Regions from separate parts of the Homo sapiens genome. Here all the other regions are linked to region 1. The links come from fine-mapping of genetic effects on gene expression. A gene starts in region 1. Each other region holds a variant in brackets. All regions are shown on one strand. Distances are from middle to middle. Region 1 holds the start of GRAMD4 (GRAM domain containing 4). Region 2 has its middle 22 kb from the start of GRAMD4. Region 3 has its middle 33 kb from the start of GRAMD4. Region 4 overlaps GRAMD4 (GRAM domain containing 4). Region 5 has its middle 28 kb from the start of GRAMD4. Region 6 has its middle 32 kb from the start of LINC02925.

What was found.
Region 2: its variant is fine-mapped to the expression of GRAMD4 in subcutaneous fat (TwinsUK, PIP 0.95).
Region 3: its variant is fine-mapped to the expression of GRAMD4 in tibial nerve (GTEx, PIP above 0.99).
Region 4: its variant is fine-mapped to the expression of GRAMD4 in subcutaneous fat (GTEx, PIP 0.95).
Region 5: its variant is fine-mapped to the expression of GRAMD4 in whole blood (TOPMed, PIP above 0.99).
Region 6: its variant is fine-mapped to the expression of GRAMD4 in pancreas (GTEx, PIP above 0.99).

Annotation. Positions count from the first base shown.
Region 1 is chr22:46,618,201-46,623,236 of GRCh38, forward strand. It overlaps GRAMD4 (GRAM domain containing 4), which reads left to right and starts at 2,186. Exons shown (of 19, transcript NM_015124.5): 1 at 2,186-2,365. RefSeq lists enhancers at 218-985, 3,414-3,925.
Region 2 is chr22:46,596,203-46,601,238 of GRCh38, forward strand. It overlaps a transcript of GRAMD4 not described here. Among named protein-coding and RNA genes, the nearest start is that of GRAMD4, 22 kb to the right of the region's middle. RefSeq lists an enhancer at 2,730-3,229. The variant A/G (reference allele first, on the strand shown) is at 2,961.
Region 3 is chr22:46,584,421-46,589,456 of GRCh38, forward strand. It overlaps a transcript of GRAMD4 not described here. Among named protein-coding and RNA genes, the nearest start is that of GRAMD4, 33 kb to the right of the region's middle. RefSeq lists enhancers at 1-839, 1,828-2,815 and silencers at 3,306-3,355, 3,706-3,755. The variant C/T (reference allele first, on the strand shown) is at 2,568.
Region 4 is chr22:46,659,215-46,664,250 of GRCh38, forward strand. GRAMD4 (GRAM domain containing 4) reads left to right here. Exons shown (of 19, transcript NM_015124.5): 5 at 2,167-2,228; 6 at 3,826-3,958; 7 at 4,624-4,649; 8 at 4,812-4,903. Among named protein-coding and RNA genes, the nearest start is that of GRAMD4, 41 kb to the left of the region's middle. RefSeq lists an enhancer at 2,644-3,227. The variant C/T (reference allele first, on the strand shown) is at 2,080.
Region 5 is chr22:46,590,305-46,595,340 of GRCh38, forward strand. It overlaps a transcript of GRAMD4 not described here. Among named protein-coding and RNA genes, the nearest start is that of GRAMD4, 28 kb to the right of the region's middle. RefSeq lists a silencer at 3,199-3,258. The variant G/A (reference allele first, on the strand shown) is at 2,444.
Region 6 is chr22:46,571,209-46,576,244 of GRCh38, forward strand. It overlaps a transcript of GRAMD4 not described here. Among named protein-coding and RNA genes, the nearest start is that of LINC02925, 32 kb to the left of the region's middle. The variant C/A (reference allele first, on the strand shown) is at 2,447.

The DNA of each region.
Region 1 (5,036 bases):
CAGCTCGAGTCCACCTGAGCATCACCGGCAGAGCCGAGCCCCTGGAGACTTAGCCAGACACAGCCCCTGCCCCGGGGGAGCACCAGGCGGGTTCTAACCAAGCAGGACTGGAGGCACAAGCGCTAAACAAGGAAGCCATCAGGGCAATCCAAGGACCCCACGTCAAACCAAACAGGATGGTGGAATGACAGCGGGCGGCGCCTAGGGAATGGGGCAAATGAGCGACGTCCCGGAGCCAAACGTGTCGGGCCCTGCAGTGGGGACAGAGGCGGTGGTCGGAGGGTTGCAAAGGGGGTCGGCAGAGCTGCAGCCAAGCCTAGATGAGCCAGAGCTGATGAGGGTGTCGGGGGAGCAGCCGTGTTGACCCGGGTGCGTGGAAGCCCCTGGAGAACTTTGGCAGGGGCGCTGCAGAGGCTGATTTTGCCTTTGAAGGCCTCACCATGCTTGCCATGTGGAGAAGGCTTCGGGAGGCACGCGGCTGCCTGGACCAGGCTGGGGTGGTGGGGAGAGGGGAGGCACGCGGCTGCCTGGACCAGGCTGGGGTCGTGGGGAGAGGTGGACAGATGTGCAGCCCCGTCTGGAGGCGTGCGGCCGGCGTGCGCTGCAGGTTGGCAGTGGAGTGAGGAACGGGGCTATCAAGGGCTCTTGAGGGTTTCACCCAGACAGCTGGTGGACACGGTGCCATCCAGTCAGAGTGCCCCTTGAGACCCGAGTCTGTGCCAGGCGTGGCATAGTTGAGATACTGGTGAGCTGTCCGGCTTGGAGCCTGCAGGGAGGCCAGGTCAGGGGGCAGGGTTGAGAGCAGCCAAACACCCGGATACGGACATCAGCATTTGAGGCCGCCTGACTGTGCCCAGCTGGCAGGACTGAGGCCTGAATCCAGGGAGGGGATGAAACTCCTGGACAAGCCTTGAGTTTGGGGCAGCACACATGTCATCAGTTGTGAGCCGACCTCTTGAGGCTGATGTTGGAACAATAGTGGCCAAGGTCGGGCACGGGCTGGAAGGGCAGGATCTGCAGTCTCAGGACCCCAGAGGGCCCAGGGAGCTGTGTGTGTGCTGGGTCCTTGGGCCTCTTTGCATCAGGAGTTAGGGAGGTGCAAGTATGTGGCTGTAAGCATGGGGACATTGGGGTGGATGTTTTTGTTTTGTTCTTAGAGACAAGGTCTGGCCCTCACCCAGGCTGGAGTGCAGTGGTACGATCGTGGTTCACCGCAGCCTCAAACTCCCAGGTTCCCAGGCGATCCTCCTGCCTCAACCTTCTGAGCAACTGGGACTGTAGGCACGTACCACCACGCTGGCTCATGTTCTTATTTCACTTTCTGTGTCACTGCATTGCCCACCTCAGCCTCTCAAAGTGCTGGGATTACAGGCCTGAGCCCTGGTGCCTGGCTGGCGATGGGGTATTGGTAGAACCAGGCCTTCTTTGCTGGCCGCCCCCGGTCCTCCTGTTCACTCTGCAAAGCCCTGGAGTCTGCCAGCTGCCCCATCCTCACGTCCTCTTCAGCTGCCCAGGTTGGCTGTCCAGCTGCTGGTCTAACCTCCATCCAGGCCTTTCTGACAGTGAGGTTTAGGGGCTACCTTCCCTAGAGGACTGAGACTTGGAGGAGGGCCAGGTGGGGGCTGGGGCCCACTGCAGTGGGGGTGGGGGAGGTGTGTCTGTGTCGCTCAACATCTGCGAGTCCCCCAGGGACATTGCTTAGGAGGGCTGGCGGCTGTGGGAAAGCGGATGCTGTTTATCCCAGGATCAGCAGGAGAGCCGCCAGATAATAAGGGGATGAAGGGCGTGCCAGCAGCCGGGCCCTGATGTGGAGGTCAGCTGTGATCCAGGGACCCAGAACTCGGAGAGGAACTTTAGCAGGGGAGATGGTGTGAAGGAGACACGGCTCAGGGCAAGCGCCAGAGACCAGGAACCACTTTTTTTTTTTTAAATCTTGGGCTGGGGAAGGGGAAATAAAGTCCTTTGCGGTTTCTGAGTCCAGGGTTCCCTAGACACTGTTGCCTTTGTGTGTCCAGAAGCAATTCAGCGGTTTCCAGAGCAGCATGCTTTTGTGTTCCAGGGCTGGCTGGCCCAATTCCGTCCTGCTTGCAGAGAGGGCCTGGAGCCTGGCCGGGCGCCGCCCTGAGCCTGGGGGATCCTGGGAGAACCTGGACAGCCGTGGTGAGCCCTGCTGCCCTGCTCTGGTGCACAGGACTGGAGTCCTCCAGGCTCCAGGGCAGCAGACACCACCCTCTCCGTGCCTGCTGGTGTTGGGCGGCTTGGAGGCTATGGTTCCTGGGTCCTCGTAGCACATCCTGGTTCTGGGCCAGGACCTGAAGGAGCCACAGTGAAAGAGTGTTTCTGGATGTATCTGAGACAGACGGAGGTAGGGGGCAGGGGGCAGGGGGCAGGGGGACATGGTAGGGCCCATCTGAGTGGAAGCCCCAGCCTTGGGAAAAGCTGCTACTCTCTGGGGCAGTGGTCCCAGCTACCACGTGCTCTTCTGGAGCCATCTTGATCTTGAAAGGCAGGCTCCCTCCCAAGGCCGGGTGCAGGCCAGACCCCACCGGTAAAGCACCTGCGCAGCCCGGGGCCAGGGGTCCAGTGAGGAAGGGTGGAGGCCTCCTGAGAACCTGGCCTGGTCAGGAGGGCCGGCAAGAGGAGGAGCCTCCCAGGAAGCCCCTCAGAACCTGACAGGACGAGAGGAAGGGAGGCCGATCTGAGAGGGAGGGAGGCCCATCCGAGAGGGAGGAGGCCGATCTGAGAGGGCCGCATGGCTCGGAGTTGCAGGGGCCCTGGGCTGCCAGGGGTGGGCCTGTAGGTGCAGGTGGAGGGGCTGGTCCTGGGGAGAGCGGCTGGGCTGCAGGCTGAGGAGCTGGGCTTCCTCCAGGGACCGTGGAGGGGGTGGGGATGGGCAGCTAGAAGTGGGGAGGGCAGGGGCCGTCTGGTTGGGGATGCGCGGCTGCAGCACGCAGGACGGAAGGTGCAGGTGAGACGCAGGTGGGCGGTGTCGGGAGACCCGGGTCTGGCCTGAGGTGCAGCCTGGAGCTATGCTCAGTGTGTAGACGGGCCTTGGTTCCTGCATCTGTAAGTTGGGCGTGTGCTGGGTAATAGTGTCCTCCCCCAAAATTCATGTCCACCTCGTACCTGTGGACCCGACCTTACTTGGAAATGGCTCTTTGCAGATGTCACTGAGATGAAGTCACCCTGGTGTACAGTGGAGCACTCTTCAGTGCAGTGCGGGGGCTGCCCATGTGGCCGTGGAGGGCACCCCTACCCCGGTGCAGGCGCAGGCTGGAGGCGTAGCCCGGGCCCATCCCTGGCGGTGTGTCGCGGAGGGCACCCCTACCCCGGTGCAGGCGCAGGCTGGAGGCGTAGCCCGGGCCCATCCCTGGCGGTGTGTCGCGGAGGGCACCCCTACCCCGGTGCAGGCGCAGGCTGGAGGCGTAGCCCGGGCCCATCCCTGGCAGTGTGTCGCGGAGGGCACCCCTACCCCGGTGCAGGCACAGGCTGGAGGCGTAGCCCGGGCCCGTCCCTGGCGCTGTGTCGCGGAGGGCACCCCTACCCCGGTGCAGGCGCAGGCTGGAAGTGTAGCCCGGGCCCATCCCTGGTGGTGAAGGCTGGAAGGTCCATCCCTGGCAGTGTGTGGTGACATGTGTCGTGACATGGAGTTTGATTCTTAACTGACCGAAGCTTGAAAAGTCTGTCTTTTTGATGGACCCAGGGAGTTGGGTGAGGAGGGTGGTGGAGTCAGTGGGGCTGAGAGCAGGGTCGTCTAGGACCCTGATGTGTGGACGCCCTCCCCAAGGGCCGCTGTGAACCATCCAGCAGGATGACCCTGGGTTTGGGGCTGAGCCGGTGGCTGGGAGAGCAGACTGAGGAGTAGCTGGACACTGGCGGGGCACGCATTGCATTCTGATGGTGACAGGCGGGACACTCAGGGCCTTTGTCCCCTCTCTCATTGCCTCATTTGCTTGCCTGAGGTGATTGGGAAGGCAGCCCTGGCCTCGGAATTACAGCCTCCCAGACAAGGGGGCTGTCCTCTGCCCAGAGCCCTGCAGGCAGCCAAGAGTTCTGTGCGTGTCCAAGCGTGTCCCCTGCTTTCCTTGGGTGGAGGCCAGCTCGGTGCCCTACACAGGGCCTGCAGGCCCCAGCGCCCGGGTCATCCCCTCCGCTTCCCTCTCAGCTGCCGCAACCAGGAGGACTCGCCGGGTTTTTGAAAATGGAAGGAAGTAGGTTTTACATTGCTACACTTCCCCTAGCCCGTTCATCCTTCCTTTTTAAACATTAAAAAGCAGTAAAAATGGTGGTTACCGGGGGCTTGGGGAGGGCATGGGAGTTCCTATTCAGTGAGCAGAGTTTCAGTTAGACAAGACGAGTCCGGAGGCAGCCGCTCAGCATCACAGATGTAATTTATGCCACGGAGCTGCACGCTAAAAACTGGTGAAGTTGGGCTGAGCACGGCGGCTCACGCCTGTAATCCCAGCACTTTGGGAGGCCGAGGCGGGTGGATCACGAGGTCAGGAGATTGAGACCATCCTGGCTAACATGGCGAAACTCCGTCTCTACTAAAAATACAAAAAATTAGCTGGTGTGGTGGCGGGTGCCTGTAGTCCCAGCTACTCGGGAGGCTGAGGCAGGAGAATGGCGTGAACCCAGGAGGCGGATCTTGCAGTGAGCCGAGATCACGCCACTGCACTCCAGCCTGGGCGACAGAGCAAGACTCCATCTCTAAAAAAAAAAAAAAAAAAACTGATGAAATTGGTAATATTTATATTATGTGTGTTTTACCGTAATTAAAAAATATTGTGGGAAAAGAAGTAATAGGGAGGCATTTTAGGAGATTTGGAGAGAGAATTGTTAACGACCACCGTAAGCCCATACTCCCGACGTCTGGCCCCATAGCGCCCGAGTCTCTTCACGCACCTGTTTGCCATAACGACAGTCACAGGAAGGTCCCGGTTTTAGTTGCCTTCATCCCTTTACAAGGACGGGGTCCTGTGTGGGTCCACCAGGGTGCTCCAGGACCCCCTGCCCTGCTGGTCTTGATGGATGGT
Region 2 (5,036 bases), 22 kb before region 1:
TGCTTCCCGTGGATAGGGACTCTGGCTGCTGGCTCGTGCCATCGGGGCTGGAGTCTTAACTGGTGAAATCACATTTATGAGGCTGATAGCCATCAGTTTCCACAGACGTAAGTGTGGCCAGGATGACAGATGTCCCTGGCGGCCCTTTCTGCAGGGTCCTGCAGGGACTCCAGGGCCATCTGGCCACAGTCCCGAAGTCTTTGTCACCATCCCTCTGTGGGTGGGTGCTGGTGCCTCCTGGGCTGTTGAGTGCTTGGCAAGGGGCTCGAATGGCCTTTCTCTTCTCAGTTGAACCAGTTGATAGAATCCTGTTTCCTTTTGGAATTTAGAGATTAGCCTTTTTTATTTTTTTCTGAGACGGAGTCTCATGTGCTCTGTTGCCCAGGCTGGAGTGCAGTGGCACGATCTCACAATCTCAGTTCACTGCAACCTCCATCCCCATAGTTCAAGTGATTCTCCTGCCTCAGCCTTCTGAGTAGCTGGGACTACAGGCACATGCCACCACACCCAGTTAATTTTTGTATTTTTAGTAGAGACAGGATTTCACCATGTTAGCCAGGCTGGTCTTGAACTCCTGACCTCAGGTAATCCATTGGCCTCAGTTTCCCAAAGTGCTGCAATTACAGGTGTGAGCCACCATGCCTGGCCCAGATTAGGCTTTAAAAATAGCATTCTTTTGTCCTCTTGGGGCCTTTTTTCCACCTGTCACTGAGACCTCCACTCCTTTGCAGAGCTTGGATGGCTGCAGGGCTGGCTTAGCTGCTGCCTCCAGGTGGGATCGGGAGCCACCCTTCTCAGCGTCCATCCATCTGTCAACCTGCTGGACTGGTTAAACCAGGTCTCCACGCCTGCTTTCGATAAGTCCTGCCCTCCCCTGGGAATCGGCGGCCAGACCTTTGGGTCCTTTGGAGAGCTGCAAAGTGGCTCAGCAGGAGCGAGAGGTTTCCTTGGCTGCTGGAGACTTGCAGGTGCCAGGTGTAGGCCCTGGAGGTGGCACACAGACCAGCTCCTGCTCAGTGCCCTGTGTCCCTCCTGGCAGGAGGCATACTGCTAAGCAAGGCTGTTTTAAAGAGGGTTTGTTTAAGTTGGATGTTTAGGAGGTTAGGTTCCCCCAAGGAGAAAATGCTATGAAGCCCCCAAAGGCGTATGGGGATGAGATGATGTGGTGAGTTGGAATCTTCTTTAGATCCAGAGGAACTTCTTTGGGTGGTAGTTACCTCTCCTTCTCTCTCTCTTGCTCAAGTTTCAGGTGATTTTCTGGCCTGGTTTCATTTATCTATCTATCTATTTATTTATTTATTTTTTGAGACGGAGTCTCGCTCTGTCGCCCAGGCTGGAGTGCAGTGGCGCGATCCCGGCTCACTGCAAGCTCCGCCTCCTGGGTTCACACCATTCTCCCGCCTCAGCCTCCCGAGTAGCTGGGACCACAGGCACCCGCCACCACGCCCGGCTAATTTTTTGTATTTTTAGTAGAGACGGGGTTTCACCGTGTTAGCCAGGATGGTCTCGATCTCCTGACCTCGTGATCTGCCCGCTTCGGCCTCCCAAAGTGCTGGGATTACAGGCATGAGCTACCACGCCCGGCCTCTGGCATGGTTTTAATTAGGACAAAAACAAGTACAGTTTGATTTGCAAGTTACCCTTCTGGGGGCAAGTTTAGGTGACACGTTGGTTTTGTTTTGTTTTGTTTTTACCATTATCTGCTTGTAGAACTTGCCTTTAGAGCACTGTACAAGGTGGCATTTTTTTAGTCCATTAGGTTTTGGCATTGGCGGCCTTTTGTTTTGTTTTGTTTTTGAGACAGAGTCTTGCTGTGTCGCCCAGGCTGGAGTGCAGTGGCACAATCCCAGCTCACTGCAACCTCCACCTCCTGGGTTCAAGTGATTCTTATGCCTCAGCTTCCGGAGTAGCTGGAATTTCAGGTGCATACCACCATGCCCAGCTAATTCTTTTATTTTTAGTAGAGACAGGGTTTCTCCATGTTGGCCAGGCTGGTCTCAAACTCCTGGCCTCAAGTGATCCTCCCGCCTCAGCCTCCCAAAGGGATAGGATTACAGGTGTGAGCCACCACACCTGGCTGGGTGGCGTTTTTTTGGTGAAAATTTAATGAGAATTCTAGGGAGATGTTTGGGTGTCTTGCTGCTCTGGTAAGTGGAGTGAGGGAGTGTCTGTGAGATGGAGAGCGGGAGGGAGGGGTGGATGGACTGGTTATTTGCACCTCGGTGTTTGTTGCCAGAGGATTCTAATTGAGCAAGCTGTAAGACCTTGTCTAGGATGAGTCCTGGCCTGAACGCCTCTAAGTTGCTTTCTCTCCCACTTTGGAGAAAAGCAGTTCTGGTTACCGGCTTGATTTGCTGTGATTTGCTGACTGCCGGCTCCTGGCTCACCTGTGGGTCTAGGTGGTAGCTTCTGGTTAGTTGAGGTATATGGGGGTCTGCTTGGGGGAAGGAGCTTGTTTAGAATGTGGGGAGACCCTGAGGTCAGACAGGGCCTGTGGTGCAGCTCCGAGCTCCTTGAGGGCCAAGTATACCCGAAATTGGAACTAGGAGCTGACACTGAAAGCCAAGTCCTCAAAATCCGTGCGGGCCAGCGGGGAAGGATGGAGCTGGCCTTGTCTGGAGAGCACGCTTAGCAGCTACATGGTGGGTTTCAGGCTGGGACTGAAAGAAGGGGAACCAGGAGGGGACATGCATGGGAAGAGGGTAACACAGGAGACAGGAGCCGCCCTGCACCCAGAGGGCTAGGGTTGGGGGTGGTGGGACTGTGAGCTCCTCTGGTGGCCTCCGGTGCCCACCAGCTCAGTGCCCTGCAGCACCCCCGGAGGAGGATGGGGGTCCCAGGGAACTGTGTGACACAGAGGCCGTGACAGAGATGGAGGATCAGATCAGGACATCCCAAGTCCTTGACAGAACCCCTAGCACACAAGAAGTAGATTTTTGGAGCCTTTGTTAACAGATGGG[A/G]CCACTGGGGGTCAGATATTTCTGCTGTTGAGCCACCCTGGGCGCAGACAGGGCCTGTGTGTGAGAGTGCTTGCGTTGTCAGTTACGCAATTTGCAGATGGCTCGTGATTTTTCAGACGTTGAGCTGGTCGTTTCATAGTTGTGCTTTTAGATACTAAGTTGTTTTTTTTTTTGAGACGGAGTCTTGCTCTTGTTCCCCGGGCTAGAGTGCAGTGTCACGATCTTGGCTCACTGCAACCTCTACCTCCCGGGTTCAAGTGATTCTCCTGCCTCAGCCTCGCAAGTAGCTGGGATTACAGGCTCCTGCCACCATGCCCGGCTAATTTTTGTATTTTTGTATTTTTAGTAGAGATGGAGTTTCACCCTCTTGGCCAGGCTGGTCTTGAACTCCTGACCTCAGGTGACCCACCCGCCTCGGCCTTCCAAAGTGCTGGGATTACAGGCATGAGCCACCATGCCCAGCTGATACTTAAGTTTTTTTGAGAATTAAAATTACCTAGTGAAAAATTACCTAGCAACCTGCATTTAATGTATTAGCTCCATTCTCTGAAATGAGCATCTTGGTTCTGTCTGGAAGATGGAGATTGAAATGTTTCCACAAGTCAGCACCATCGAACATGATGGCCCCACATGCCTACGAGTTCCATGGTCGCCGTCGCTGGAGCAAAGGCGTGTTGTGAGGTGTGACTGCTTTTGCAGAAAAGTGACCATCGGAAGGCTTTCCCCACGTGGGGACTCCTTAGTCCTGAGTCAGTGAGAATCCCAGGTGTGTCTCACCACCGGCGGCACCTTCTCCCTGTAGGACTGTCTGTCGAGTGGCTGACTGTGAATCTCATCTGACCTTAAGGCCACCAGGAAGCTTGCTGGTTATTTGTCAAAGGGTCCTGCGGAGAGTGGAAGAGTCCTTTAGTCATAAAAGGATTCTTCCTGAGGTGTCTGTCTTGGGAATCGACTGTTTTATGCCTCGATTTTTAAAGGCTGGTGACACCTGTGCCCTTCTGTGAGAGAATCACCTGCCTGTGACCAGTGCCCGCAGCTGTCACCTGGAGCTGTCACCCTGTTCCAGTGGTGGGATGTGGGCCACTGCTGAGGGTCTCCTAAAGCCCCATCAGAGAGAGCGTGCAAAATGGAAAGGGCCCCCACAGATTTGCTTAAGCAGAGGGGGGCTTTGCCAGCTTGGGGCCAGGGGCCTGCGGTATGGAGCTGCTTGGGGTGCTCTGGCTGGGTCGCTGGTCTCCCCTTCTTCTGACGTGGTGCTTTTTCACCCTCCACGCCTCCTTCTGCTTCCCTTGTGGCTTCATTCCCGTGATGAGGCAGAGCATGTGATTGGCAGCCCCTCACCATGGGATGGGTAATTCCCCGTGGAGAGCAGGGTCCTTACCAAAAGAGGGACAGGGATGCTGAGTGGGGGAAGCACAGACAGTGCACAGGCAGGCATGGAGGAGACAGCGGAGCAAGGCGGCAGGTGCGTCCTGTACACTCAGGTGCTAAGCCCCGGTCGCAGAGCCCCTTACAGCCTCAAGCGATGGAGGACACTGGCGAGTCTTTGTGCATGTGGGGTGTATTCATTGCCACTCGCTATTAGAAATCAAAACTAAGAAATTTAAAAAGATTTATTAATTTACTGAAATATGCAACTATAAATCTATTACATGTTAACATAAATAACATGTCTTTCTTTAAAAAGAAATCACTACTTGGGGCCAGGTGCAGTGGCTCATGCCTGTAATCCCAGCACTTTGGGAGGCCAAGGCAGGCGGATCACAAGGTCAGGAGTTCAAGACCAGCTTGGCCAATATGGTGAAATCCCGTCTCTACTAAAAATGCAAAAATTAGCCAGACATGGTGGCAGGTGCCTATAGTCCCAGCTACTCGGGAGACTGGGGCAGGAGAATCACTTTAACCTGGGAGGCGGAGGTTGCAGCCAGCTGAGATTGCACCACTGCACTCCAGCCTGGGTGACAGAGCGAGACTCTGTCTCAAAGAAAAAAAAAATCACTACTTAAAAAAAGAATTAGTGAAGAGGGGTGCCGACATTTTGTAGCTCTCCTCGGGGTGTGATTTGTCAGGAGACAG
Region 3 (5,036 bases), 34 kb before region 1:
TGTGAGTTCGCGCCGCTGATGAACTCTGATCCGTTTCCTGCATGGATCTTTCTCGTCTCCTTTCTTGCAGATCAATTCGTGTCTATTCAAGCAGCAGGAAGCCAGACTCCCACCGCTTGCCACACATCTACTTAATTGTTAGTACCGGTGTGTCTGCGTAGTGGGACTGGAGTTGTTAGTGGGACCCCCCGGGAAGCAGTTCCCGATCCCTTGGCTTCGAGCCCGGGCTCCCGGTATGCTGCCGCAGCATGGCTGGCTGGGGCTGGGGAGGGGCCGCCACCTCCCCAACATGATTCCACGACTTAGAGGGAAGAAGGGAGGGAGGCTGCAGGAGAACCAGGGACTTCCCTGCTGTGCTTAGTCAGCCCGGCCCCGCAGGGACGGGCACGGGCTTGGCGTTGCTTTGAGACGTGAAAGTGGGGCTGACTTAGAACGCATCCCAGAGTCCGGCCTCCTCGGGGAAGGAGGAGAAAGGCTGCCGGCGGGACGCTTTAGAGCTCAGACAAATCTCCGACTCCATCCTGGCCAGGTCTGTCCCCTCTCTGCCTCTGAACTTGCCACCCTGGCAGGGGACGGCCTTTGAAAAGATCTACAGAGCCGCATCTGCTGGGCTTTCTGTTAAGCATCTTTCATTCAGGAATGCGTCAGGCCCTTGCAGAAGTTTTGGGAAGAGAGAGAACCAGGTGGTCACTCCTCGTCTGCTGGTTTGTCGGCGGTGTTTTCCAGGCAGCATTTTGGGGATCTGAGTGGAGCCTGTCTTTTTTCTTTCTTTCTTTTTTTTTTTTTTTAGATGGAGTTTTGCTCTTGTTGCCCAGGCTGGAGTGCAATGGCGTGATCGTGGCTCATTGCAACCTCCACCTCCCAGGTTCAAGTGATTCTCCTGCCTCAGCCTCCCGAGTAGCTGGAACTACAGGCACGCACCACAACGCCCAGCTAATTTTGTATTTTTAGTAGAGTCGGAGTTTCTCCATGTTGGTCAGGCTGGTCTCAAACTCCTGACCTCAGGTGATCCGCCTGCCTCCACCTCCCAAAGTGCTGGGATTATAGGCGTGAGCCACCGCGCCCGGCTGCCTGTCTTGTTTTCTTGATGTTGGGTTAACTTCGGCCCTAGACCCAGGAAGCCTCCGGTCACAGCACCCCAAGGCCCTTGCCTGGAATACAAGACTTTCACCCTTGTGTTCGCGGTCCCATGAGGGGTGCTGGCCTCTTATCACCTGTCCGGGGCACCTGAATGATGCTTCTGCCTTCAGGGCACACATGGTGGAAGGGAGCTTGTGGGAGGTGGAAAGGTAAAGAGAGCCTGGTCTATGGGATGGGGAAGGGCCTGACCCTGCCAGGGAGGGAGCGACAAGGAGGGCTCCCTGGAGCGATGAGGGAGGGGCACAGGAGTTTATAGGACACAGGAGTGGGGATGGCTTGAGACCGGCCTCTCAGGTCAGCTTGTTAAAGGTCAGCCTCTGTGCAAGGCTCCTGGAGACCCAACCAGCATGTGCCTGCGGCTCCTCTGGGGCTAGGACTGAGGTTCAGCCACGTCTTGGGTGCAGTGGGATACCTGGCTCCTTTGTCTGCCCCCGAAGGCCCTTGTCTCTGTGCTATGGGGCTAGGCCCTCCCATGACCCCCACGTTTCCCCAACCCTATGGAGTGTGTCTAAGGAAGCAGGTGGAATTGGCCTGGCTCCCCCAGTCTGGGACCTAGAGCACAGCCCGGGGAGCCAGGGCTGCCCTCGCTGGGGATGCCAGCATTCTTGGGAATGCAGCTTAGGGGGTGGCCCACTCACCTGCCTATGCCCTTACCTGGGGCCAGCCTCCTGCCTTCCTGCTGACCGTGTCTCCTTCCTTGCCCTGGCTCCTCCCCACCGCCCCACGTGCCCCACCCCCATCCTCACTGGGCCCCACTGGCGCCTCCCTGCTTTCCAGGTTGAGATTGGTGGGCTGGCTCAGTCCGGTGCGATGGTCGGAGGCATTTGCCGGGTGATGCTGGCTCGGAGGGGCTCTGTCCCCTCCTCTGTCTGCCCTCCCCTCCCCAGCCCAGGGCTCCCTGGCTCCCCGGGCTCTGCTCTAGGCCCCAGACTGGGGGAGCCAGGCCAATTCCACCTGCTTCCTTAGACACACTCCATAGGGTTGGGGAAACGTGGGGGTCATGGGAGGGCCTAGCCCCATGACACAGAGACGAGGGCCTTCAGGGGGCAGACGAAGGAGCCAGGTATCCTACTGCACCCAGAGCTCTGGTGTGGCGGAATCGCTGGTGGGGTCTCAGCTTCTCAGGGCGACTGGCTGCTGTCCCTGCTGGGACATGAGTTGGGGGGAACCCCTACCTGTCTGCTGGGGAAAGCGGCCCTGGGGTGAGCCTGGCCTGAGCAGTGACAGCCTGCAGGGTCCTCTGTCTTCCTGCCCTGCAGCTGATGAGGAGGGAGCTGAGGCCCTGCAGCTCTGAGGGCACTTGGGACCTGGATGGGCAGAGGTAGAAAGGTGTGTGTAGACCTTGGCCCCTGGGTGGGGAGTTTGGCGTTTAAAAGTCTGAAGCAACACCCACACCCCGTCTGTGTCCCAGAACCCACCCTCTTACC[C/T]GGGAAGAACCGGACCGTAACTACCCTGTGATGCTGGACAAAGCCCGTGCTGATGGTCGCCTACTTCCTCGCATGCTTTCTCAGCCCACTCTGCGCCCAGTGGCTCTTGTTTGCCACAGAACCCTGATGAAGTAGATTATCCCCTGCCCTGGGGGAATGCTCAGCTGACAACAGGAGTGGACCCTGTGAGAGTGGAGGCCCCTGTGATCTGTGGAGCGTGTGTGCCCGCTGGGCTGTGATGAGCCAGTGATCTGGGGCTCCGGAGTAGAAGGTGACATTGTGTCCCCAGCCACTGCTGGACCCCAGCAAGGTGTGTGAATCATTTCACACATTCTCCACCCAAGAAGTGAAACTGTCAGGTTTAAGTGTGTGGGGGTGGGAAGGGGAAGTCTGTTCCAAAAGCCCAGCCGTCCGGAGTGACACTGGGCCATCAGCTCTGGGAGGCGGAGGCCGTTTGGGGTCCTGTTCCGGCTTCAGTGCCCAGGTTTGTGTCTTCTGCTTGCTTTCTGTAGCCCTTCTCTTCCAACTAGGGGGATAGTCAGGGTCTGACAAAGGCTTGAGGGGGAGGGCCTCCACCAGCAGCATACCTGGCAGGCAGCCCAGGCCGGGGCGGGGGGCCAGTGGGCTGGATGGGGGTCAGTGGGCAAGGCTCCGTCCTGTCCTGTCCTGTCCTGTCCTGTGGGAGAAGCCTAGGCAGGCACACTCAGCCAACCCCAGCTCAGGAGGGAGGGACCCAGAGGCACTGGCCCGAGGTAGGGTTGAAACAGGTGGAACTGACTGGTGGTCGTTGCTGGCCCCTGGAGCCTGACCTGCCTAACAGTGGAGGTGGCAGATGTTTGGTGGAGAGGAAGTGAAACAGGCGTGTGCGCCAGAAGCCCGGGCGTCGGGGTGGGGCCGCGGGAGGATGGTACAGGGCTCCTGATCCTCCCCGTCTGGGCAGACGCACTCACATCACAGGTTGGCAAAAGGCCTGAGGGTCCAGGGGGCCAGGGCCTGGTCAGGAGGGGCACAGGCGGGGAGGGAGTGGGTGGTGTCTACTTGGCTCTAGATGTCGGGTTTAGAGAGAGACTCTGGGACAGCCCCAGCCCTGGTGGAGCCCCATGGAGCCGCCTTCGGGGGCTCTGTCCCAGAGTCTCTCTCTAAACCGGACATCTAGAGCTGTGACTCAGGATAGGCAGGCCCTGGGGGGTCACCCCCAGCCACCCCATCTGCTTTGAGAACCTAGGAGCATGGGAGAAGCCAGGTAACCCCAGTGACTGCCCAGCGTCCCCCACAACCCGATGGATGAGGAGCCAGTAGGTCAGGAGGGGCAGAGCTGAGGTCAGCACACCTCCGTCCCTGTCTGGCTGTCCGTCTTCCATCCCTCCAGGCAGCACCACGCAAGGGCAGGGAGGTGGCAGGCCTGCTGAGCTCTGTGGATGTGGGGCAGACCCGGCTGGCTTGTTGGAGCACCCTCCCCGGGCGAGTGCTGTTCATATTGGTATCTGCGGAGTGGGTCAAACCACTACAGAGGGCAAGAGGGGAGCTGTGGCCTCTGGCCAGCCACGTTCTAAGCTTTTACAAGGCCCCACCCTGTCCCTCGCAGTCTTAGCCATCAGCTGCCTTTGGAGAATGAGCGATCTGAAGATGTTCCTGGCTGGGGGGCAGGGGTGGCCAGTGCTCCTGGAGCTGCGGGGTGCCCACCCTTTCGTCCGTCCTCCTTCCCCGGCCTGATCCAGGAGCCCCAGCACCGCCCTCTCCATCCCCGGGGTCCTTAGGCTTCCCTGACACAGGTCTCAGGAGGGCATGTGACACTGGCGTCGGTCCGGGCTGGGCAGAGCCTGGATGTGGCCCAGGCTGGGCTGGGCTGGAGCCGAAGCCTTTCTTCTCAGGTCCTGTCATAGCTGTGGGGCCTGGGGCTGGTGACCCAGCCTCTGCCAGCGTCTCCCCACCCCCTCCCACAGTAAGGTTGGTGACAGCAGAGTTCTCTTAAACATTTGAGATGTCCTGTGCTGGCCCGTGGCAGTGCAACCACAGCTCGTAACTGTGGCGCTGGGCAGAGGGCTGGGTACGCAGCAGGTGCTTCGTCAGTACTGATGGGAGAAGCAGGGACGGCAGGGGGCGGGGGGACCTGGATGGGCGACACTCCCCAGCCTGCTGGTGCTCCAGGGAGGACCTTTTCAGAGCTGGGAGACCCTGGCTCAGTGTCCTTGTCCCTCCAGTCGCTGCTGCCTTCCCGAAAGCCCTGGAGCCTTGTTAAAGAGGGCAGCCCTGGCTCTTGGGGGGAGTCCTGGGTTTGGGGGCGGCTCTGATATGGGGGAGCCGTGGGTGTGGGGGCAGCTCTGATATGTGGGGGAGCCCTGGGTGTGGGGGCAGCTCTGATATGTGGGGGAGTCCTGGGTGTGGGGGCAGCTCTGATATGGGGGAGCCGTGGGTGTGAGGGCTGTGCCTCACGTGGCCCGAGGGCAGATGGCCCAGTGTGGGGCTGGG
Region 4 (5,036 bases), 41 kb after region 1:
GCCTCCCTCTCAGCCTCCACTCCCTCAGCCTCCCCCCTCAGTCTCCACCCTCAGTTTCTGCCCAGCCTCCCCCCAGCATCATCTTCAGCCTCCGTCCTCAGACTCCACTCCCTCAGCCTCCCCACTCAGGTTCCACTCAGCCTCCCTCCAGCCTCCACTTAGCCTCCCTCCAGGTCTCCCACCTCAGCCTCCCACCACCATTGGCCACACCTTTGTCTGTGGCCCCCATGACCTGCATGGATGGCTGTCACCAGTTAGGGAGGCACACGGCATCTCTGGGACACCCCAGCTGAGCACTGCCTGCTATGAGCGCTCCGGGGGCCGTGTGTCATTGTCAGGACTCCAAGTGTCGCTGCTTAGCTGGCCCTGAGGAAGCGGCTCCCTTCAGCACCCTCAGGTTTAGTGTGTGGGAAGACGGGGGATCCGCTGGGCTGACTCCCACTTCTTCCTTGCCCGCCTCCTGCAGGTCAGCATGACCTTGTGGAGTGCCCTGGGGGGCTCATGTGGGGGCTCATGTGGGGGCATCCAGCTGGTGTGGGGGAGGGAGAGGCCTCACTTTCCTATTCCGCCCTGGCAGAACCTCCCAGACCAGAAATGGGTGCATGGGCCTCGGCAGGCGCTTTACCTGATGCTGAACCTTCTGGGAAAATCCACAGAAGCTCAAAGCTTAAATTACATTTAATTATGTAGAGTTGCAACAGAGACCTGACCTGCCACGCTGGGAGATCCCAGGGACAGGTGCGGTCCCCAGGCATTTGGCCACAGTGCCATCCCCGCCACGGGACGCTGCTTCTCCCCCGGTGGCTAAGGTGGCCTGAGGCTGTCCCCGTGGCCCTGCTCCCTGTGTTCTGTTTCCCATCCTCTCACTCCCGCCAGCCCCACTCCAGGATCTGGTCCTCATCTTTTACCAAAGCCCCTTGGTGGCAGGTGTGCCCAGCCCGGGTCAGCTGTAAGAACGCAGGGAGCCCCATCTCGCACAGTCTCTGCCTTGGGAATGGGTGGGGAATGGGCAGTGAAGGAACATCCAGGCTGTGACCCAGGAAGTGGAAGCTGAAGGTCCTGGGAGCATTAAGGGCTCTCCCCTGCTTTACATGGGGGCGGCGCTTAGGAACCTTCTGGAAGCCTGAAGGAGGAGGGGTGAAGGAAGAGCAGTCCCAGGCAGAGTGACCTCCTCTTTCCTTGTCGTCCTGGTGCAGATCTGGGGTGGGTCTGGGTGGCTGTGGTCTGTCCAGGGTGGGTAGGTGTGTGAGGGCACACACAAACATGCAGACACATGTGCGCACACACTGCACACACACATACCACACACTCTGAAGCTGCAGGATTAAAGCACAGCAGTTCTGTTTATGCAAACCTCTATTTTGGTTTTTAAGAAAATTCTCAGAAAGTCACCTTGGTTTAAGGCTACTTGTCAGTAGGCAGAGATTCTCTCCATTGTGGATCCAAAGTCCCCTGAAAACCTCACTGTCTGCTTCCTGCCCGCTGCTTACCTGGCCGTGCCCTGTGTGCCCTGTGCTCCGCCCTCTGTTCTCTTCTCAGGGTTTACTCCTCCCCCAGCTTCCTCCCTCCCCACTCCCGCTTCCCAAGAGTTAGGAAGGTTAGGGGCGACCACACAGCACTTGGCCCGGTTCTGTGCTGCACCTGCTCACAGGCCTTGGCTGGAGGGGCTGGGTGTGGGACGGAAGCAGACCCTAGTGGCCGTCTAGTGCCCCTGCCCAGTCCAGGCAGGTCGCTGGAGTAGGCTGAGCTGGGAGCTGGGTACAGGCTGCTGACAGGTGGCACCCAGCCTGTGGCCTGGCTTGGTGCCTGATAAACACATGTGTGTTGATCAGTATCTTTTCATTAGCAGACGGGTTGGTGATATGAGAGTATTCTGAGTTTAATGATGTTGAAAGAAGCAAGTGTGCTAAAATGAATAGGAAAGGAAAGAGTGGTGAAAGATGCTGGTTGTTTAAAAACAAAACGTGTGCCTGTTAGGAAGGCAGCTCTGTGCTTGCCTGGATACGCTCGGAACCAGCATTTCAGCAGTGGAGACTCTGGAGAGAGCCCTGCTGTCCCTGACCTCTCCTGTGCAGTACA[C/T]GGTCGCGAGAGCCCTCGGGGGTGCCTGACTGGGCATGGAGTTTGGAACTAACAGACCTCTTGTCTCTTCTCTCCCTGCTTTTTAAGAACCGAGGAGCAGATGGCTCAGCAGCCCCCAAAAGGGCAGGCCCAGGCCAGCAATGGAGCAGGTACACCCTGGTGGGCGGGTGGACAGGCAGGCGGGCGGGTGGGTGGCTGCGCGTCACCTGCTGGTTCTGTAGGCCCAGGTTAACAATGGAGCAGATACCCCCTCCCCCAGCAGGTGGGCAGGCGGCAGGTGCTGGTTCTGTGCCCAGGCACCTGCTGGCATCCGGGAATCTCCTCCCGTCAGAACTGGGTTAGTGTCTCTGATGCGAAGTGGTGAGTCATCATAGTCGTCATCACAAATTTCCAGTCACTCAACTAAAGCGTGATTGTGTGTTCTTTGGGGAATACACACGTACTCTGTTTCAGCCTTGCCCCACGGAACAGTGATGTGAGAGCCACGCTGGTCACTGCCGCTGCCCTGGTGCCTCCCCGAAGGGGACCAAGTGGGCAGTGGGGCTATGGTTGGCTGTGAGTGGGGAGTTGGGGGTTCATGTGCCCTTTTATCTCTCTCCTCGTCCTCCATCCCTGAGTGCCTGTTCTTTATCTTGCCCCACGCCCTGCAGGCAGCCGGCATAGTTCCCTGTACCTGGGGGTCAGCAAACTCCAGCCCCCGCCTGGCTTCACAGATTTAAATGGTTTCATTTCATGACATGAGAACGTAATATAAACCTGAAATTTCAGTCCATAAATAAAGTCCATGGGAACACAGCCGGGCCGGTTCACTTACGGCTGGGACGAGTGTGCCGATCTCACCTGGACCCTCCCCTTAAAAACTCTGCCAGGCTGCCTTGGGGGCGGGAAGAAGCCGCAGGAGCCTGCCCTGGCCCCATCCTCCCTGCCCGGGTGGCCTTGGGGTACACAGACCTCAGCCCCCTTGGCCTGTGGCTCTTGAGCCTCTGCCCTGAGCCTGCAGCCCCCTGGGTATGGTGACCACAGGCCCTCTGGTCCCAGGGCCCAAAACTTTGGCGAGGCAGCACCCGCTGCAGGCGGCTCCTCACTGGCCTTCTGAAGGGAGGGACTGGCTTGCACCCCTGAGCCCCCCTTCCGAGGGATTCTTCCGGTTTCCCGCCGTGGAGGCTGCTTTCCAGAGGTGTTCGCTTTTGGTAAACATTGCTGGTCATCAGCACGACAACACCGTGCGCTCACCCTGGGCTGGCTGCGCTCGCCAGGCACCCCCAGCCCAGGACACAGCCTCCCGCTGCGCCATCCATTGGCTGATGCTCAGGATATGCAGGGCTGGGGCAGTGACCTCTCCATCTGCTTTCTGACAACCCGGAGGTAGAAAGGGGGTTTGATGCAGACGTCTGAGGTGGGCCGAGCAGCCTGGATGGACAGGCTGCCCGCTGACGAGAGCCCAGGGCGGGCAGAGAGCTGGGGACAGGGATGAAAAGCAGAGAGACCCGGCACTGAGGTCGTCATGGCTGGGGCAGCTCTGCTGTGTGCCGGTTGGTTTGCACTTGGTGTCTTCAGAGGACTGAGCCCTTCAAAGTCCCTTGTACAGGGACCCTTCATTTCCCTGACCTACCCCCGAGCATTCCTTGTGCCTCTGCTGGCCGCGCCCTTGCAGTGAGGCCCCTCCCTGCCCTGAGATCCCGGAGCCGACCCCAGAACAGGCAGTGCAGCCCTGCCGTGCCCTCACCGGGTCCCTGCCCCCTGCAGAGCGCCGGAGCCAGGGGCTGTCCTCGCGCCTGCAGAAGTGGTTCTACGAGCGGTTTGGGGAGTACGTGGAGGACTTCCGGTTCCAGCCCGAGGAGAACACTGTGGAGACAGAGGAACCCCTGAGCGCCCGCAGGTAGGGGTTCGCCGAGCTGGGGCTGCCTGTGCGTTAGGGGCCCCGGTCCCTGGGCTGAGGCTGCAGCGGGTGGGCCATCCTTTATCACCGTGGGCCAAAGCTGTCTGTGAGGCTGCCGAGAGCTCCTGGAGGCTCCGCTGTGTCTGGTCTTCTGGGGGCCGTGCCTGGCAGGGGCTTGCGAGGCCCGCTTAGGTGCAGCAGAGCTGCATGCGCGCACTGCTCTCAGCTGTGGCTTGTGACAGTTGTGTGGGGACTCATGGGGCTCAGCCCACTGCCTGGGGCCTTCCTTGGCTCTTGAGTCCCATCAGTAAACCTTGGTTCCCCTGCCAGGTGCTGCCATAGGCCCTGGGGGTCCCGAGGGAGCTAGGTCAGCAAAGGCCCTGCCCTTGAGGACTTCTGTTCTGGGGACACAGGCAGGAGATGAGGGGACGATTTCATTGGCGAGTCGCCCCTGCCTTCCTAACTTGGGGAGTGGCACTGAGGGCCATCCCGGCGCACCCTGCTGTGCTGAGCCGCCGTGCATGGCCATTCTGTGCACTCAAGGGGTCCCAGGCTGTTGAGACGTCCTCCCTGGCCCCTGCAGAGCCAACGGAACCGGGCAGTGGGGACTGCAGAGCCGGCGGGTGCATTAACCCTGGGCTCCCATCTCTCCCCTTCTCTCTTAGGTTAACTGAAAATATGAGACGGCTCAGTGAGTACCAGCGGCTCTGCGTGGCGCCCACGATGCTCAGTGTGGGTGGGGCCCATGGCGGTGGGGACTCTGGGATTCTGAGCTGAACCGACTCTCCAGGGAGACGTGGTTAAGCGGCCTCCTACCCACAGTGCTGACCACTGTGGTCTGCTCTGTCCCCAGAGCGCGGTGCCAAGCCGGTCACTAACTTTGTGAAGAACCTCTCTGCCTTATCCGACTGGTACTCCGTCTACACGTCTGCCATTGCCTTCACCGTGAGTGGGTCCTCCAGGGGCCGAGCAGGGTGGGTGGGATGTGCCTGCCAGCATTCACCACATGATCAGGCACCTTCCCAGGGTGGGAGGTGGCCCCCAGGTGGCACTTCCTCAGGCCCCAGGGACATGCTCA
Region 5 (5,036 bases), 28 kb before region 1:
GGAAGCTGGGGGAAGGTGGCTAGTGGGTGGGGTTCGGGAGTACTGGGGACCTCTCCCAGTGTCCTTCCTCCAGCCAGTCCTTGGCAGAGAGCTGAGAAGGTGCCGGGGATGGGTGAGCGCTCCACTAACCCCGAGGGCTGGGATTGGCCAGGAGCGCGTCCCAAGGAGGAGGTGACCTGGGCCACTGTGTGTGTGACCAGGCCTGGGCTGCTGCCGTTAACACCCAGTCAGCTGGTGTCTGCCTGTTGCTCGTGACTGGCCTGGTTTGGTGGCCTGGTAGAGGGGAATGGGAGGGGAGAAACCCGGGCTGGGCCCAGGTGAGTGTCAACAGGGGAGGGAGAGAGCAGCAGAGGTCCCGCCAGGGCGTGCTTGGGTGAGGGGAGGAGGAGCTCAGAGAGATTGGGGGAGAGTCCACAGTGTTGTCTGAGGACAGCTAAGGACGATGGACACTACTAGTTTATAAAAACAGCCAGAGGCCGGGCACACTGGCTCATGCCTGTAATCCCAACACTTTGGGAGGCCGAGGCAGGTGGATTGTCTGTGGTCGGGAGTCTGAGACCAGCCTGGCCAAGATGGTGAAACTCTGTCTCTACTAAAAATACAAAAATTAGCCAGCATGGTGGTGGGTGCCTGTAATCCCAGCTACTCAGGAGGCTGTGGGATGAAAATTGCACGAACCTGGGAGGCGGAGATTGCAGTAAGCCAAGATCGTGCCACCGGACTCCAGCCTGGGTGATAGAGCAAGACTCTGTCTAAAAAGAAAAAGAAAAAAAAACAAACAAACCCAAAAAACAGCCAGAGAAGGCAAGAGCCCTGGAATGGCCTAAGGTGGGAAACTGCTGCCCTCTCAGCCGCGGGGTCCAGTGTGTGATAGTGAAATCTCTCGTTATCTTAAATTCTCTCTTCAGGGACTTAAACAGAAATTAACAGGGCTGGGTGCAGTGGCTCATGCCTGTAGTCCCAGCACTTTGAGAGGCTGAGAGGGGGAGGATTGCGTGAGCTCAGGAGTTTGAGAACGGCCTGGGCAACATAGTGAGACTCCATCTCTACTAAAAATAAAAAATTAGCTGGGTGTGGTGGTGCATGTCGTAGTCCCAGCTCCTTGGGAGGCTGAGGTGGGAGTTGGGGTTTGTTGTTTTGGACAGATTTACCAAATTCATTTGGACGACGTTACTGAAGCTCCATGAGGCAGAGGCTAACGGACATTGCTGAAGTCCTAGGTTGCATCCCTCATAAAGGCCACCCCCGGGCCGTGCACGGTGCCTCACGCCTGTAATCCCAGCACTTTGGGAGGCTGAGGCAGGTGGAATACCAGAGGTCAGTAGTTGGAGACCAGTCTGGCCAACATGGCAAAACCCTGTCTCTACTAAAAATAAAAATTAGCCGGGTGTGGTGGTGGGTGCCTGTAATCCCAGCTACTCTGGAGGTTGAGGCACGAGAATCGTTTGAACTCGGGAGACGGAGGTTGCAGTGAGCCAAGATCAAGCCACTGCACTCCAGCCTGGGTGACAGAGCGAGACTCTGTCTCAAAAAAAAAAAAAAAAAAAACCCAGAAAGGCCAACCCCCGCACCCCTCAGCCCCCGCACCCCTCAGTTAGCCATGCCCAGGGACAGTCAGAAAGCATCTGTGATATCAGTGGACATTGGGGCCCAGCCCAGGACTGGTGTGTCCCCTCCTGTGCCTGCAGGCTTGACACAGCAAGGCCCTCCCTCTCGCCCCCAAGTCCCCACACTTGTCAAGGGCATCACGGCACATTCCAGGAAAGTTGGTTGATGTCACGGGAGTCGAGACCTCATCCTGACGCCCAGCTCAGCAGGGCCACCGGGGCTCAGGTTAGGTGGTGCCATAGTTGGGGGACAGTCCCCATAGGGTTGCGCCCCCAGAGTGCCCTAGGGAATGAGGCCCACTGCTACTGCCACCAGCCCAGCTGGCATAATTGATAAATAAGTGTGGTTCTTTTAAGTTGGGCAAGTGTGTATTTTTAAATAACTGACTGCTTAATTGTACGATTAAAAACAGCAGAGCTGGGTGCAGGGGTGCGTGTCTGTGGTCCCAGCTCCTTGGGAGGCTAAGGCGGGAGGATCCATAGAGCCCAGGAGTTTGAAGCCAGCCTGGGAAACATAGGGAGGAGGCCCTGTTTCCAAAAAAAAAAAAAAGGATGAAGTGGGCTGTTAGCACTGAGTCATGGCGAGCAAGGTGAAGAAGCCCCACTGTGGCTGTGTGGTGAACTCAGTCATTCACAGCCGGGAGGGGCTCGATTCAGTTACTTTCCTGAATGTTTTCACTGTTCCGACTGCACCAGGGAGGAACCACATCCTCTACGCCTGCAGAAGCAAAATTTCTCTCCCGAGAGTCTTGGAATTCTGCGGCCCACATGTATGGTGACCAGCTCTGCAAGGGGCTTTAAAAACCCCAGTGTCGGCTGATTTGTTGGCTGACACC[G/A]CGCCCGGCACCTCCAGGATGTGGCCGGCATCGTGGAGGGGCTGCTGGCTGCCTGCCTTGCTTTCAGTTCCACATGGAGACAATGACTCTGCTGCACTGAGTTTCAAGAATTTTGGCAATAAAAAGAGCCTATATGACCTATTTATGAAGTATTCCAGAATCACTTACATGAATATTTTGTCCTAAATTCTGTATAATTAGAAGATATAAACCCCACATTGTGATTATTTTTGTTCACCAACATAACCTAAATTAGAACTCTCCATGCGGGCTTTCAGAAAAGAAAGCATTTGAACAAAAACATAAAAGGAATTGGTTTTATCCACACCGTTCTCAAATACTTGAGAGTAACGTGTTTGCTTAAGTAACATCGATATCTTGTTTACTGTTATTTGATTTGCAGACCTTTCCTCTTTACCAGTACCAGTAGCAGAAAGGTAAATTGTACTGAAACGTTTAAAAAGTCGTAAGTTCTGACTTTGAGGCCTGATGAACCATCACGGGATTCTCCCCTGCCTGGTTCCTTTTCCCCGGAACCTCACATCAAGCAGAAGCTTCCTTGCGGGCGGCCCTTGTTGCAGGCGGTCTTGGCGAGAGACATCCCCATTTCTGCAGCTGGACGGTGAAAGGGACGTTGTTGTTCTTGGCCATTTGGCAGGTGTTCTCTGACTGCCTCTTCTCCGCTGGGCCTGCCGCACAGGGAGGGCAGGTGGGACCGCCCCCCAACCCCTGCCGCAGGGCCTACCGAGAGTCCCATGGCGGGCGGGCAGAGGTGGGCTAGTGTTGCATTAAGTGACTTCCCGTAGCAGGCTGTTCAGTGCTGGGGCAGCCTTCTAAGGGAGGAGGCTTGTGGGCTGAGACCTCTTCCCTTTTTCATCATTTGGGCTTCCGGGGCATAGAATGGGATGCGTCATTGGCCTGGGGTCTGTGCTGCTGTTGGGCGTCTGTGCATAGTCCTCTTTTGTCTATTTTCATTATTTTTATTTATTTTTTTGAGATGGAGTCTTGCTCAGTCACCCAGGCTGGAGTGCAGTGGCGCGATCTCAGCTCACTGCAACCTCTGCCTCCTGGGTTCAAGTAATTCTCCTGCTTCAGCCTCCCAAGTAGCTGGGATTACAGGCGTGCACCACCACCCTGGGCTAATTTTTGTATTTTTTTAGTAGAGATGGGGTTTCATCATGTTGGCAGGATAGTCTTGAACTCCTGACCTCAGGTGATCTGCCCGCCTCGGCCTCCCAAAGTGCTAGGATTATAGGCGTGAGCCACCTCACCCAGCCATATTTTCGTTATTTTTAATAATGTAATGGGAACCTCTGGGCTCACCGTCAAGCAGAAGCCAGCCTTGATACCCAGCATCCTGCCAGCCCCTCCCCAGCATCCTGCCAGCCCCACCCCAGCATCCCGCCAGCCCCTCCCCAGCTGCCCCACGCCCGGCTCCTGCCCCAGCTCTGTGTGTCCTGTGCTCTCCCTTCCCCACCACCCTATGCACACCTTTCTCTGCCTGGGTCCACACTGTCACCTGCTGTAGCTCTACCCACAGGCCATACCTGCCTGGTGGGCCCCTCCTCCCTGCCCCTGTTTTTGTGGAAGGACAGGTGGAAGTGGGCGGGTGGGGTGGGTATGGTGGGTGATGATAAAGAGCATTCTAGGCCAGGGCAGGAATGCAAGCACATGGGTGTGAGGGGCCAGGTGTGTTCAGGGATCCTTGGCACTTGTGGGGTGGCGGGAGCACTGGCCAGAGGAGGGCTGGGGTAGGGGGAGGCTCCTGGCCCTCTGGGGGGCCCTTGGTAGAGGAAGGGGCATTGCTTGTGTGGGTGGTGAGGGACCTCTGGTTGGGTGGGGGGGGTTAGGTGTTTTAGGAGGCTTTGGGTACAGAGATGTCCAGGGGTAAAGTGGAGCTTGGTCTCAGGACAGTTGGCCCTGGCATCTGTCCTGCCCTGGGGGGCTAGGAGGGCCGGACTGGAGATGGAGGCTGGGGCTGTCCTGGTCCCAGGTGAGGTGGCATCTCCTAGGAGGGAGGAGAGGGTTGGTGCCCTGCAAACCCTGGGGGAGGGGCAGCACGGGGAGCTGGGGTTGGGGGTGAGGAGGGGCGCCCCACATGTTCTGAAGCGCTCTGGAGTGGCTCCAGCCCGGCCAGCACTAAGTTTTGCTGTCTGTGGTTTGCTGTGCCTGTGTCCGCTGCTGGTAACCAGTGCATCGGGACTTGGGCTTTCTGACTGCACCAGGTTTGTTTCTGCTGCTCTGAGTGCGGTGCCCAGTCACCGAGGTACCTGTCGTTCCCGCCTCCTGTGGACTGCGTGGCCTGGCGTCGAGGCAAAGCAGCAGGAAAGTTGGGTCCGCATCCCAGCCCCACATGCGGCCCGGGGGGAGAGTGTGCCTTTCCCCTGGAGACACACAGGGTGGGGGAAGTGAAGTCAGTGGCAGGCACCCAAGAGGGGCACGTTTTCAATCCCAGGGTGGGCGTGGGTACTAACTACAGGTAGAGACCATGCGACGCAGCGGGTCTGCACGCCTCAGGGTTCTGGAACAATCCAGACGGGGACATGGGGGAGATTGGCCACTGGGACTGGTGTTTCACTTGGCTGCCTCTGGA
Region 6 (5,036 bases), 47 kb before region 1:
AGCCTCCAACTCTTGGCCTCAAGAGATCCTCCCATCTCAGCCTCCCAAAGCACTAGGATTACAGGCAGGAGCCACCTCGCCCAGCCGAGGACTAAATTTCAACATGAGTTTTGGAGGTGACAAATGTAGAAAGTAAAAATTCCTCTTCAAAGTTTCCCTTCTTGTTAAATAAATCATAAGTGTTAAAAATAATAGTTTCTTTGAAAAACTAACTTCCTTCAAGCCTCCTTGCTTTGTGCTAATAACTCTTTGTTAAGCCCTAGCCTATGTAGCTGCTAAACATGCTCACAGTCAACATAGTACATTCTATGTCCTGGAACCTTAACCAAGATATTTGTGCTGTACCTGCTCACAGGCATGCTCCCGCTTGCAGCCTATGCCCCTTCCCTATTTGGCATAAGCAACTTCCTCTTTTCCTTTGTCTTTCCATTACTTTTACCTTTTTAGAAAAGTTTTAAACTGTTAGCCAATCGGGTTTTAGTTTAGATTGTGAGGTCTGGCTGCAGCCAACGGAGACAGGACACAGTAACAGGGACAAACGCGTAAGGGATAAAAATTGCTTCCCTCCTTTGTTCAGGTGTGCTGTCGCCATTGTTCCATCTGCGATGAGCACCCTTTCTGCAGAAAGTAAAAATGGCCTTGCTGAGATAATTAAATTTATGTTTGAGTGCTGTTTCTTTGCAGCACTGGGGAATGAGCACTCTGTTTCTAGATAAACATTTTACATAGAACACAAATATTCAAAGCACAGCACCCCCTCCCACCTGCTTATCACCCAGAGGCCTCCAGTCTATACCCAGAAGAGCACTGATGGGATCCTGTTGTTCCTGCTTGAGACCCGGCCATGGCTCCTTCCTGCCCTGGGATATGGGCTGTCCTTCATGGCAGCTCCTGCTTTTTCCCAGCTAAACAGAACAAGTGGAGCTCTCTCTCTTCCCACCAGGCCTTTGTATATGCTGTTCCCTCTGCCTGGAATCCTCTTCCTACTATCTTATCCTAGTTAACCTCTGGTCACTCCTTGGCCTCTCTTAGAGTATCATGGCCTCCAGGAAGCCTCCTCAGCCTTCTGTGGCTCTCTGTCTCATCACTGACCACACTGTGACTTCATTGCCTGCCTGGCTCTGCCTCTCTGTTGGATAAGAAGGCCAGGGGACCTTCTTGAGTGTTCCTCCTTGACACACGTCCACAGCATAGGGCTTGGCACCAAGGAGAGGTCAGGATAAGTTCGTCCCTGGGGTGCTCTCAGCCTCAGTTCGATTCTCTAAAAATGATGAGGTTGGCCAGGCACGGTGGCTCAGGCCTGTAATCTCAGCCATTTGGGAGGCCGAGGCGGGTGGATCACCTGAGGTCAGGAGTTCGAGATCAGCCTGGCCAATATGGTGAAACCCAAACCCCGTCTTTATTAAAAATACAAAAATTAGCCAGGCATGCATGGTGGCACACGCCTGTGGTCCCAGCTACTGGGGAGGCTGAGGCAGGAGAATCACTCAAAGGCAGAGGTTGCAGTGAGCCAAGATTGAGCCACTGCACTGCAGCCTCGGTGACAGAGCAAGACTTCGTCTCAAAAATAAAATAAAATAAAAAAGATGAGGTTGTCCTGGATCCCTTCTCCCAGCCATGACCCTTATGGGGTGCCTCCCACATGCCTGTAGCAGGGGAGACTGGGGGTGGACTGCCCGCTGACCCTCCCATGCCAGGGCACAAGGACCCAGATGCATCTGGAGCTAAAACACTTCTAGCTCCTGGAATTTTCAGGGGTGGGAGGCAGGTGTCAGCACAGGAGGGGCTAAGGAAGCACCACCTTCCCACTGATTCCTGGCAGCAACCCGGTGCCAGGAGTGGTAGCAAAGGTGAGAGTGAGGCCGCCTCCTGGGAGCCCTGACTGTTGAGGAGTGGGACTGGGCCCCTCAGCTCTCTGGCTGGGACGCTGCCATCTCTGGCCCAGAGCTGAGAGCCACCAGCTGCTGCTCTGTTCAGTCTCCTATAGGAACCCCAACTCCCAGCCTGGGACTCTTCGCCCAAACCTCTCACTGCTCCAGATCCAGGGGCCTTCCTCCCTAGCCCTGGCCCCACCCCTTCTCCCCTAATCAGGATGAAAATAGCAACCGCCGGCACTTCCCAGTGCCATTTGGTGCCAGGTGCTGCCATCTCTGGGGGGTGGCGACGAGGTGATGTGGGGAACGGCCTGGAACCCAGAGTTTGCACACCCCGGGGCTTGGAGTGCTTCCTTCCCACCTCTCCTCGGTGGCCCCGGGCAGGTTCCTGAGCCCTCTGTGCCTTGGCGTCCTGTGTAATAAAATATGCGGTTTTGTGCATGTGGAGTGACAGCCTGGATACTACATGCCAAGGTACGAACCTTCCAGGTGCACCTGCTTGGTTCCAGGTCCCGTCTCAGAAGGTGAGGGGGGGCTGGGATATGAACTCGGATTGGCCTGCCCCTGACACA[C/A]CCCTGCTTCTCATCGACTTATTTCCATGCCTTTGGCCACAGACAAACATAACAGGATGGCCTTGAGGAGCCAGTGGACAGTGCGGGGGTGTCAGGCTATATGGAGAGCCCTGCTACCACTTGTCACTGGTTCCTCTCGAGTCCTGTCATCTTGCCCCCGATTTCCCTCAAGGCTCTGAGGCCGGGAGGCACGGGTCTGAGGGCCCCGCTGGCCCCTGGTGTGAGCAGGCTCCAAGCCTCCTTCCCAGGCCACCCACCAAGCTCAGGGCTCCGCCGTGCCCACTCGGAGCAGCCCTGCCCCGCCATCCCTGTGTCCAGTTCTGCTTTGAGCAGAGGAGCAGGGAGCTGGCGGTGGCCTTGCCATCACCAGCTATGTGACCCTTAGGGTCTGGCGGCCACTCTGAGCCTGTGCCCTCGTGTGAGTTTGCCAGGGCTGGTGTAACCAACACCACAGACAGGCGGCTTACACAACAGAACTTCATTTCCTCATGCTTCCAGAGATTGAAAGTCTGAGATCAATGCGTCTGCAGGGCTGGTTCCTCCTGAGGCCTCACTCCTGGGAGTGCAGATGCCGCCTTCTCTCCGTGTCCTCATGCAATCCCCCCTGTGTGTGTCCGTGTCCCCATCTCCTCCTTTTATGAGGACACATGTGCTGTTGGGTTAGGGCCCACCCTCAGGGCCTCATTTACCTTCATCGCCTCTTTAAGAACCCTGTCTCCAAATGCAGTCTCATTGGGAGGTATGGGAGTTAGGACTTCAACAGATGAATTTTTTGGGGGACACAATTCAGCCATAAACGCTGCTCTGTAAATGGGCTAATAGGATGGCTGTGAAGAGCCACGGAGCAGGGTGGTGGGCACCACGCAATATCAAGTGTCCCCCTTTGTGGGGTGTGTGGTCCGTGCCTGTCCATCAGGCAGGGGCTCTGTCTGACTCTCTGCACTGCACCAGTTTTGCGCCCCTACCAAGCAGGGACTGGGCACCGAGCAAATGTCTGGAGGGTGGGCCAGATATGAGGGGCTAGGCATGCTGGGTGCCCTCGTCTGGTTTCCCTTTGGCTTCTGCCTGCTCACTCCTAATCCTGGCCGTTCACAAAATGAACATTTCTTGGGCGCTTGCTCTGTGTCGCGCTGTCTGCTGCAGCCCCTTTTCTGTTGGGGTACTGCCTGCCTCAGCCCCAGTGGTTCAGATGGCACTGCCAGTCACAGCACCCTGGCCTCTGCCCCCGCAGTCCCCTTGGCTCAAGCGTGGCACATGACCAAGCAGGGCGATGAGAATCCTTCCAGGAGACTTGGTGGAGGGGTGTGGGGCAGGAGGGGGTCTCTCTTTGGGATCGCTGCTGTGAGGATGGAGGCTTTTTCTCCACTGGGAGAAGCAGAGAGGTTCGGAGATGAGAGGTGAGAAGCAGCAGGTGTCCTGCTGGCAGAGAGACTGCCACTGCTGCATCCGCACAAACAGGTTGCCTTTGGGGCTTGGCTGAGGTGAGTCATTTGTGTACAAAATGACCCGGACAATGACACAGCCTGGCCAAGGTCTTGAAATGTGGGGACAGCAGCGAGGGACTCGCACAGGAAAGCTCTGGGCCTTTGCTCCCAGGAGCAGCTCACCTGGGCTGTCAGGGAGAGTGGAGAGAGGAGACAGGAAGGAGCACAATCAACAATGAAAACGATTAAAATGTGGTCACAGTGCTGGGGCAGGAGGTGCCCTAAGGGCCCCCCCCCTCCCCCAGAGCCTTGGCAGGTGGAGTCCGGGTTCATTTCTGACCAGGCTGGCTCAGGGCTTCCTGGAGTGGGCAGCTCTGGAGCTGGGCCTGGCAGGCTGGGTAGAGTTAGTGTAGGGCAGGTACCCCTGGGAGGATATGGCCAGAGTAGGGAGCGGTAGGCAGGAAAGTAGAGCTTGTGTTTGGGAAAAACAAATCCTGTTTCCCTGGAGGACAGAGATAAGGCAGGAAAGCCTGGAGGGTTTGGACAGCGGGGAGGGGGAGCCAGAGAGGTCTGGCGGTCAGGCCTGGTGCTGGATGGGGGCTCTGGGCACAAATGTGAGTCATCTCCGCCATCCTGGAAAGAGACGGTCCTGCAGACAGCGCGCCATCGCACCCCATGCTGCCTGCGGAGGCACAGGACAGACGCCACTGGGCAGCCCTTGCGGAAGCGCTGGATCCTTTACCCTGAAATCACTGGGTCCCCAGTTCTGCAGACAGGAACCTGAGCCTTGGAGAAGTACAGCTCACCTGAGTGCCTGCCTCTAACCCAGGTCCATCAGGGCTAGACCTGGAGGGGGATCAAAGAGAGGCCCTGAATCTTGCCACAGGGAGCTTCAGGTGCACTTGAGCTGGGGCCCTTGAGACAGAAGGAAGTGGGGAGGGCGGATCCAGGTCTGGAGTCTTTGGATTGAAAGGTTGGAGATGCCTGTGGGACTCCCAAGGTCAGTGAGTTGAGGGCAGGGCACTGGGGCAGGCAAGAGACACAGGAAGGGCGGGGCAGAGCACAGGGGACCCAGTCTGGGGAGGGGGAGGCAGAGAGGGCTGGGCAAAAACAGCCTCCAGGCCTTGTCTATTTTCTCCACTCCGGTTCTCCTCCACCCTCCCACC